Linked DNA regions of Homo sapiens: all the other regions are reported to be linked to region 3. Evidence: microRNA targets listed by miRTarBase, many of them from high-throughput screens and not tested one by one. Region 3 holds a microRNA gene; each other region holds the end of a gene's coding sequence.

Region 1 (3,255 bases), not on the chromosome of region 3:
CCCACAGGGAAGCAGCTCTGTTTCACTGGGCACCATGTGGGCTGGCTTATGGGGTATAGGAAGCCACCATATTGGGTTTTCCTGTTCATTTTAAAGCCTTGGACACAAGTAACATTTTGTGGTTGGGTTCAGTGGCTGAGGGTAGAAGGATGGGAAATCATGGCTGATTGATTGCTCTTTTGGTCTCCTGTTCTGCCAGGTGACAAGCCAGGACAAGGCTCCAAGTGTCATCAGTCGTGTCCTTAAGAAAAACAATCGTGACTCTGCAGTGGCTTCAGAGTATGAGCTGGTACAGCTGCTACCAGGGGAGCGAGGTCAGAGGCCATGAGGGAAAGGCAGACTCGGGAGGAGAGTGGAGTACTTCCACATCTGGGCGGCTGTGGGGGGAACAACTGTGTGTGTGCTTTACATCCATCCCCTGAACCTTCAGAGCTGACTATCCCAGCCTCGGCTAATGTATTCTACGCCATGGATGGAGCTTCACACGATTTCCTCCTGCGGCAGCGGCGAAGGTCCTCTACTGCTACACCTGGCGTCACCAGTGGCCCGTCTGCCTCAGGAACTCCTCCGAGTGAGGGAGGAGGGGGCTCCTTTCCCAGGATCAAGGCCACAGGGAGGAAGATTGCACGGGCACTGTTCTGAGGAGGAAGCCCCGTTGGCTTACAGAAGTCATGGTGTTCATACCAGATGTGGGTAGCCATCCTGAATGGTGGCAATTATATCACATTGAGACAGAAATTCAGAAAGGGAGCCAGCCACCCTGGGGCAGTGAAGTGCCACTGGTTTACCAGACAGCTGAGAAATCCAGCCCTGTGGGAACTGGTGTCTTATAACCAAGTTGGATACCTGTGTATAGCTTCCCACCTTCCATGAGTGCAGCACACAGGTAGTGCTGGAAAAACGCATCAGTTTCTGATTCTTGGCCATATCCTAACATGCAAGGGCCAAGCAAAGGCTTCAAGGCTCTGAGCCCCAGGGCAGAGGGGAATGGCAAAATGTAGGTCCTCGCAGGAGCTCTTCTTCCCACTCTGGGGGTTTCTATCACTGTGACAACACTAAGATAATAAACCAAAACACTACCTGAATTCTACTCCCCTGTCCTTGCAGTACATATGAACTGGCTGCTATGAGTGGGGGTGGGGAATTGGCTGAAGGTAGATGCCATGGAACAGGAAGGGGCACAATGTTTTCTGTCCCCATGAACAGAGCAAAAAGTGAGGTATTGGTGAAAAAAGTTTCCTCAGAACAGTTTCTCTCCAGTAACCTCTCTACCACTGGTCCCTTGCTGCAAATGTGTATAAAACAATTTTAGGACAAGGAAATGGCAGAACAACTTTATGGACAACATATAAACTTGGGAGGACTTATAATACCATAAAGCATTACATGCTGGGATTTTAAGTCAGTTTAAAGCTACATTCAAGCAAATTCTAGGAAGACAGAGGCTGAAAAGTACTAATAGAGATGCCAGGGCTGTTGGCAAGGAGGGTAACCACATTTCATCCTGGGGCCTCAGGTTAGAGAACTGTGTATTCTTTTTCAATTAAACCGACATTCCTAGCAATATGGTATGTTGCAAATGCCCTTCCAAAAGAATCATGCCAACCAAGATGAGGGAGAGTTAAGGGTTGTATATACAGGCAAGAAGTAGGTTTGAAGACATTTAGGATTTCACTTTCAAGAAAGAACACTGTGCCACAAAGAGATTCCAAGTGCAAGAGTTTGAACCTGAGGGGGTAATACAGGTGGTGTGTGTTAAGGTGGAAGGGGCTGTGGGGATATGACAGAAGTGCCTGGTCAGGAAACAGAGCCAGGTGTTTTTACATTTTATTAGCTACAGTATAGATCCTAGAGCTGCCTCATTCCCTCCCCTCCCCTCCCCTCCCCCCACCATGGGGTCAGGCCTTGCCAGGAGCCCCTGCCTTTGCTGCCTGGGCCCGCTGGAACTCCTGCTGCAGCTGAGCAAGGGTCTCCCTCTGTTGCTCTGACTGCCGCTCAAGATCCCGAAGCTGGGATTCGTATCGCTTACTAAGGAGAGACAAGGGAGACAAGCAGAAAGGGAGAAATTAGTAGGACTCACTATGGAGAGTGCTAAACGCAAGAAAGAGATAGGTGGAAAACTTGAGATCCAGGGGAGGGAGAAGAAGGGGGGTTAAAAGGGAAGGAAAGGGTTGGAGGAACTGGAGGACTAGGGGCCACTATGGAGAGCTGTTCTGCAATGGTTCAACACCTCTACTCCAATGGTTCACTTGCATCACAGGGTGCAGCACACGGTGGTGGAATAAAAACTCACATTTCAGCTGTGATATAGTCCAGCCTCTTCCCTACTGTGGCCCGAGCCTCCCCCAGCTCCTGTTTGACTAGCACCGGACCCAGAAGTTTAAAGACCACGTTGGACCCATCCAGCAGGGCCAGTTCCTGATGGAGGGATGGGACATATGTGATCAGAACCATGGCTAGTACAGGTCCCTCCTCGCCCCACAAATCCCAGTCCCTCACCTCTTTCACGATATTATTTTCTGTTAGTTGTGCTTCAAGTTTCTGCCTCCCCGACATGGATTTACTTAAGTCTGGGGATGAGAGGAAAGGCAATTTAGAAACATCAAATGTGCCACCTATCCCCACAATCCTAGTCAGGTGGATATGGATCTGAGGAAGCAGAAAAGGATGGGGGCAGCGGGTGAGTGAACAGGGAAGAGTACTGAGACTGAGGCGGGGAAGTCTCTGCACGCGAGGGCCCAGATGGGGCAACAAACCTTATCTCGGTAATGGCTTTGGGTTGTAAGTGCATTGGGCGAGACCATACCGACCCTGTTCCCTTACCCTTCTGTAGCTGTTGATATTTCTCCACTTCTCCCTGTAGCTTCTTCTGGATCAGCTCCGCCATGGCGGGGATGAAAGCCTACTGGGTGCGAGACAAGGGCGCTGGGTCTCACTCTCTGGAAGGTACCTGAGCTCCCTTTTCTGATCTGGCCTGCGGAAATGATAGCACTCTTGAGAGGTAGCCCTGAGGGGCACCGCAACCTCCCCCCCGTCCCGGATATCGACTCCACCCTGTCCCCAGGAGATGGTGGGCGAAACGCAAGACCCCAAGCCTCTCAACCGAAATCCTAACCTACTCACGTTCTTCCTTCAGTAGTAATAAACCCGGAAGTAAACAAGGAATGCTGGGAAAAGACTGTGCCGGAAGTTTCTTTCTGACCCTTGATGGGAAGTGTAGTTCTGACATGTTTAGGGAGTGGAGTTCTGCTAAAA
Region 2 (3,255 bases), not on the chromosome of region 3:
TTGCACCTCAGATCATCAAGCATTCTCATAAGGAATGCTCAACCTAGATCCTTTGCACGTGCAGTTCACTTTAGGGTTCGCGCTCCTATGAGAATCTAATGCCACGGCTGCTCTGACAGTAGGAAAGCTCAGGTGGTTAATGCTTGCTCACTAGGCTGCCACTCACCTCCTGCTGTGCGGCCCAGTCCCTAACAGGCCACGTTCTGGTACCCCTGGTCTAAGGTATTTAAACTTCTTTGTACCTCATTCTCACCTTCTTCTGATTTGTTAAAAAAAAAAAAAAAAATTGGTGGCAGAGGGTGGGGGAATGACAGCATTATCAACTCTTGTCATGAGGCTTAATGAGTTATTACATGTAAACTACTTAAAACAGCACGCAGCTGTTTTAGCTATCATTTTATATGTTCAGTTCTGAATCACTAATGACAGAAGACAATTCTGATATACAAACTAGCCCAAATGAACAATGTGCTAGTGTTACACTGACATGAATCTCTTAAAGAGTACAATGCAAATCTTAACACTTTCTTTGATGAGTTTTCAATAAGAATTCAATTAGTAAATTCTTTTTCAAATGGTTTTACCTCCATGCCATGAGCCCCTTATTTAAGGCAGGTTTCTCTCTTACTGTCTCTCTCTCATTCTCTACCTCAGCATATCCTGCTTGTTTCCTTCCTGGCATTTATTACAAGTTTCATTATTTTGTTTTCCCCAATGGATCTATGAAGGAGAGATCTCTTAACACATGCTAGCACACAGTAGGCACTCAAATGTACCCTGTATAAACAATGTAAACATTTGTAAATGTGTTTAACTCATACCAGATGAAAATTAAAGCAATAATGGTTACAGGTTCCTATTTTAAAGTAATAATCCAATTAGGGATTTGGTTTCATTGTAAATACATATGATTTATTAAAAATATAAACTGATGGTATTCTCTATAAATTATTCCCCAAACACATTAAAAGATGTGATAATAGATATAAATTTGCAAACCATTTATAGCCACCCTCCCCCTTTGAGTACAAGAGAAAACATACAACATACTGTAGGTTTATTTTTATTCAAAAAGTTACTGTCTCAAGACATAAATACAAATCAGAAAACAGTACAATTAGGACAATAGAATGTGGAGGACAACAGGTTAGAGTAATATATAAAACATTTTTAGCTGGTTGAAAACAAAGCTGTAAGAACTGCTTTCACAAAGAAGTACTCCTTTCAAGAGTGAGAAAAAAAATCAACTTAGGTTTAAAATCATATATACAGTCCTCTCAGCAGTTCTAGTTAATGCAGTGGTGTGTAAAACAACATAGGCAATACTTTTGCACATAACAATATTTGTTGATGGAAAATCTGTTAGACAAGTCTGGATTCATTTGTTATTAACCATGACTTAATAAAATAATTGTATCATGATCTTTTTAGCTAACCTATGGTTTTTGGCTACCACAGCCCAATGCTTGATTTCTGACTAAAAACTGAAAGCCTTTTGGTATTCACCCATCTGAAGATATTCTTGTATTGCAAGCATATTAAGGCATGGAATGATTAAAATAATATACCTCAAGAACTGAGAGACGACTGACAATAGATAGATACACATGTAATATAAGTTAATATTTTGTTTTAAACGATGTCTAGCTGCCTAAGCCTCGCAAAATGAGTTGATGTCAAAATGGCAAGTAGCCACTTTCTGTTTTAAACTAATTTATTTGTGAAAGGACATAAAATGAAGTTTAAAGCTTAGCTTTCAAAGAATATTATGGGTTATGAATTCTATTATCCCATCTAATTTACATACAGAGGAAATGTACTGTAACCTGTTAGAAGTATCTTTAACCTGAAGACTGCTTGCAAAGACAGATAGATAAAACAATATAAAATACAAATTTAAAAATCATTTTAAAGCATGAACACTCATGCTTTTCTATTTTTAAACATTGTTAAACTTTCAATATATTTCTGAAACCTCATAATTTTAAGTTGGAATTTAAAAGTAAGAAAAAACTAAACAAACTGCGCAATTATAAAATCAGCACCAATTTATATATATATATAATTTTATTTAAAATTTAGATCCCTATTCCCACACTCTAATAAGCTGTATAATTTTTGTTTAGAATTTTTCTGCAAACATACTACAATAAGCTTCTTTTATTTGGAGACAAAATACAGTGGCATTACTGGAAGGAATATCACAACATTACATTTTTATCTTAAAGGACAAGCAAACTTTCAGGGTTGATAATGGGATAAGCATGTTTGAGACTGGTTACCTTCTGGCAGTTCACTGCATCTGGATATTTCTGAAAAGTATAGAGAAGCTCTTGGATTTTAAAAATATCTTAAAATACTTTTAGATGAAAAAATTGTAAAAGTTCTGCTTATAAGTTTACTTTTCTCCACAATTACAATATTTAAAACAAAGTTTTGTTGATTGACGTTTTAAGCATTTAAATTTAGAATGCTAAAAACAATTCTATCCTACACTTTCTTCAGGGTAGGGGAATAAATACATCCTTAACATTGTTTTCTGGATGTAAACAGAAATCCAGCAGAGGTCATCATTATTTAGTACAACCAGTAAATAAATGTAAGAGAATTCATATCTGTACCAAATGCCTCTTCAGATTGTTATTTTGTTTTTTTTTTTTTTTAAAAAAAAGCATGAAATAATCGATTCAAAAGCCAACTAACAGCGCATAAATAAAATATTTACTTTCTAAGAAAAACTGTAGCTTATCATCAAATTGTTTACTTGTCCTTTACGTTTATTCAGGCAAACAAAACTGCCCCTCAATGCACTTGATCTTGGTAAGCATAAGCATGTCATATTCTCCTTAGAGAAAAATCTGTACAGAATTTCACTGTATCTACCACACTTTAAAATTTCCTCTTCCACTTAGAAAATGACTTCACCACAGATTTAATTGTGTACTGGTATTAAAACATTGACACTCCAAGAACCTAATGAGAGAGAGAGAGGGGAGAAAATCTCGTTAAAAGTCATTCATTTCTTTAAATATATCCATAAATATTACATTAATACTTTATTATGTTAAATAACATGCTAATAAAACCACTTTGAAAACTTCCCCTCTCTTCAGATGTATAATTCTAAAATTAAATTGACCATGATATATAATGAAATAACATCAGGACTAATCAAGATGCTACTTACCTCACATATAATTAAAGTAGGAACCTTGGATTAATTATGCTTATATGTACCACTAATGTCTAGATAAT
Region 3 (3,255 bases):
GCTCCCCCGTGTCCTCTGCCTCGATGACACTGGCCATGAAAAACAGACTGAGCCCCGTCACCATTGCTCATCAGCTTCATGACCGCCCCCCACCACAGTGCACAACCCTAGCATCTTCCCCAAAGTCCACATGGCCCCCCGAAAGCTCTCCCAAAATGATTCAATGGCGGGGGTCAGGGGAAAGGATGACAAATGTCACACCAGCCCATGCATTCACGTACCCTGGAAAGTCCCGCCTCAGGCGTGGCGCCCGCACACCACCGGGCGGTAGCGGTACTGAAAACAGGCCATCTGTGTTATATTCGTCATTAATAAAAGCGAACTCATCACAGACAACCTCTTCTCAGGTACCCAGAGTGCCATCGGCTCAAGAACGTGGCTGCCGCGTCCCGTGGTGCCAGCGCTGCCCCCGGGAAGCAGTCCTGAGGACGGATGGGACATCAAAGGTGAGAAGACACAGAGACAGGAAAGAGACCCCTGCCCGGCCCACTCTCGGTGACCAGGCCCCACTGAGGCAGCGACTCCAAAGCACCCGTCCTGCTCCTACCCTCAAAAGGGCTTCATCTCCAACGGGTCCTCCAAGGTGAGATTTGATACTGAGAAAAGATCAACCATGTATTATTCGAAGTCAATAAAGCGAATATAACACGGTCGATCTCCCTTCAAGTACCAGGAAAGGCGCTGAGCTGAAGCGCGATCGGCTCCCCGGCCCGCAGGCCCCACAGGCTGCAGCGGATACGGACGGCTAGTGGACCAGGTGAAGTACATTAGAAACAATTACTTTCCAACTGGTCGACCATCCATCCCCGTACCCCAGAATGGTGCTGATGCCGGCGTCCTTCCCCGAGGTGCCCCAGCCTCCAAGACGGCCTCCCTGGTGGAATTTGATACCGAAAAGGGGTTCACCGAGCAACATTCGTCGTCCAGATGCAAAGTTGCTCGGGTAACCTCTCCCCGAGTACCATGGAGAGGCTCAGATGCTCGGACTAAGGTGAATGCTTGCAGGCGGCTGTGCTTGCAGAAGACCCTCCCCCAAGGGCAGCACAAGGTCTGGGCATTCAGAGCCCAGAGCCTCACACTCTCCAAGGACGTTCCCAATCACCAAGTCCAACGATTCCAACCCCTTCCAGAATGAATCTAGAGACTCTTCCCAGAAGTTGAGTGCAAGACCCAGGTAGGATCTTATACTGAAAAGACGGCAACCTTCCTTGGGCACCTTGCTAAAGATGAAAATGAAACCCTGCTCGCACCCGCTTTTCATTCCCAGACCCTGAGAGGGGGTGACCCTGTAGGGACCCCTGCACAAGCACAGAGCCTCCCTCCCAGCAGAGGATTCCTTTGGCGGGAGCTCAACGGGGCACAACGCTGACCCCAGACCTGCGGTCTCACCAGCACCATCTCCAGCCCACAGAGGCATCACCCCAGGATCCCTCAAAGAGTAACTTCACAGTTATCAACAGCTGGCTGACCATCTGATTAGCCTCATAAAGCAAGTGAGACATTCAAAATAAGGGACTGGGGGGATAAATGCAGCAGAAGAAAGCAGGTGAGTCACAGATGTCTTCTCTTCACAAGGGTCAGGGCAGCCCTGACCTCAGAACCCAACCTTCCCCAGACTCAGAGAACACCCAGAAGGTGCCTCCTGGAGCGGGCAGCCAGCAAGCATCGGGCCAGACGATGGATGCCACAAGCAGAGTCCAGATTCTGTGCCCACCACCCATTCTGTGAACTTTGGAGTGGGACCGACAGCAGAATCCTTTCCCTGACGTTGGCATGAGCTCAGAGAGCCCTCTGCGCCTTGCTACAAGTGGAGCAAGAGGCCAGCCATGCGAGGCCTGCTGTAAAGAAAGAAAAGATGTCACAGACGACTTCCCTTCAGGAGCCATGGGCACTGACCTGCATCAGAGCCTCCTTCCTGGGGCAGGCATCACCTCCCAAGGTGGTCCCGGAACGCACCGGAGTCAGCAGGAGTGGAACAGATGACATGCACCGTGGGTACAATCGGGCCTGTCCCATGGGCGGCCCTCAGGCACCTGCCCTGGAGAGGGCTCCGGCTGCAGGCCGCCTCCTGAGGGTGCTGTTGCTTCTGGAAATTCTCCAGGTAGGGTTTGATCTGAAAAGAAAGCCATGTGCAATGCTGGTCACCAACAAAGCAGGCCAGCAAACAACGAGCTCTTTCCACAGCCCCAGCAAGGTTTTTGACCTTGGAAACATCAACTCCAGAATGACTTTCAGCCTCTATGACCAAATGACATTCGGCACCAACGAAGGGCACGTCCTTGGGGCCAGCATGGAACCATGTAAGGTATCAACAGCAGAGTCTGAGGAAGGACTGAACCCCAGAATGTTCCTGGATGCCTGTGTGTTCATCAATAGCCTTGGAAGTGTGAAAGGAAAGTTATCTCGGGCCCCTAAAATCACTAAGGAAAACTCAAGCTGGAAGCTGCTCAGGATAAACCTGCCTCTCATTCCATTCAAAGTCATCCCTCTGCTCACTGAGACAGATGCGTATCTGATTTGCCTCCTTTGGAAAGGCTCATGAGAAACGCGAAAGAATGTAATCATTTGTGTATCACCTGTCTGTGACCTGGAAGCTCCCTCCTTCCTGCCTTCGCTTCAAGTTGTCCCACCTTTGCAGACAAAACCAATGTACTTCTTACATGTGCTGAATGATGTCTCATGTCTCCCTAAAATGTATAAAGCCAAGCTGTGCCTTGACCACAGTACTTCCTGAAGCTGTGTTACGGGTGTATCCTCAACCTTGTCAAAATAAACTTTCTAAATTAACTAAGAGCTGTCTCAGATTTTCTGAGTTCACAGAAGCAACTGTCCTGAAAGACCAGACCCCACTGACCGTAGAACTTCTGCTTCCCTCCGGAGTCAGCGTCTCACCCAGAACCCTCCGTGGGGATGGAGGGAGACCAGGTGATGCCTGTCACTTACGTATGAATGCTCTGGGGACAACATGCACCCAGATCCCCGGGAGGACGCCTTACCAGTGTGTCACGCCTGAAGTCAGCACACCTTTCCGGGAAGCTCTCGGGAAGGTTTGGGGCAGCAAGAAAAGATCAACTGCATAAAGGGGGAGACTGTATCCCATTTTTTGACCCTAGGTTCCTACTGACCCCACCAACTCCACTGTAAACACGCACAAATGTAACCACCTTCACAAGAATTGTACCAACACTGATATTCATAGAAACGTGTTTTTCAGAGCCAATGCCATTATACTAATCCAATTCCCTGTTTAGCTTT

What was found. Region 3 holds the annotated microRNA hsa-miR-409-5p (AGGUUACCCGAGCAACUUUGCAU, at 928-950, opposite strand). A microRNA usually pairs through its seed, bases 2 to 8, with sites in the 3' UTR of a target mRNA and lowers its output. Matches are read on the target gene's strand: a 7mer-m8 pairs with bases 2 to 8, a 7mer-A1 pairs with bases 2 to 7 and ends in A, and an 8mer does both.
Region 1: the mRNA of RGL2 is a reported target of hsa-miR-409-5p. The part of its 3' UTR that is shown has no 7-base or 8-base seed match.
Region 2: the mRNA of STAG2 is a reported target of hsa-miR-409-5p. Seed matches in the 3' UTR shown: 8mer at 2,276-2,283.

What each region holds. Positions count from the first base shown.
Region 1 is chr6:33,289,489-33,292,743 of GRCh38, reverse strand. It overlaps RGL2 (ral guanine nucleotide dissociation stimulator like 2), which reads left to right. Exons shown (of 18, transcript NM_004761.5): 17 at 200-314; 18 at 431-1,090. The coding sequence ends at 642. PFDN6 (prefoldin subunit 6) reads right to left here and starts at 3,143. Exons shown (of 4, transcript NM_001185181.3): 1 at 2,824-3,143; 2 at 2,500-2,570; 3 at 2,294-2,418; 4 at 1,811-2,028. The coding sequence starts at 2,887. The coding sequence ends at 1,899. It overlaps MIR6834 (microRNA 6834), which reads right to left and starts at 2,499; the gene lies at 2,419-2,499.
Region 2 is chrX:124,100,292-124,103,546 of GRCh38, reverse strand. It overlaps STAG2 (STAG2 cohesin complex component), which reads right to left. Exons shown (of 35, transcript NM_001042750.2): 35 at 891-2,973. The coding sequence ends at 2,950. Among named protein-coding and RNA genes, the nearest start is that of STAG2, 140 kb to the right of the region's middle.
Region 3 is chr14:101,063,009-101,066,263 of GRCh38, reverse strand. It overlaps MIR409 (microRNA 409), which reads right to left and starts at 964; the gene lies at 886-964. It overlaps MIR541 (microRNA 541), which reads right to left and starts at 1,769; the gene lies at 1,686-1,769. It overlaps MIR412 (microRNA 412), which reads right to left and starts at 817; the gene lies at 727-817. It overlaps MIR369 (microRNA 369), which reads right to left and starts at 666; the gene lies at 597-666. It also overlaps MIR410.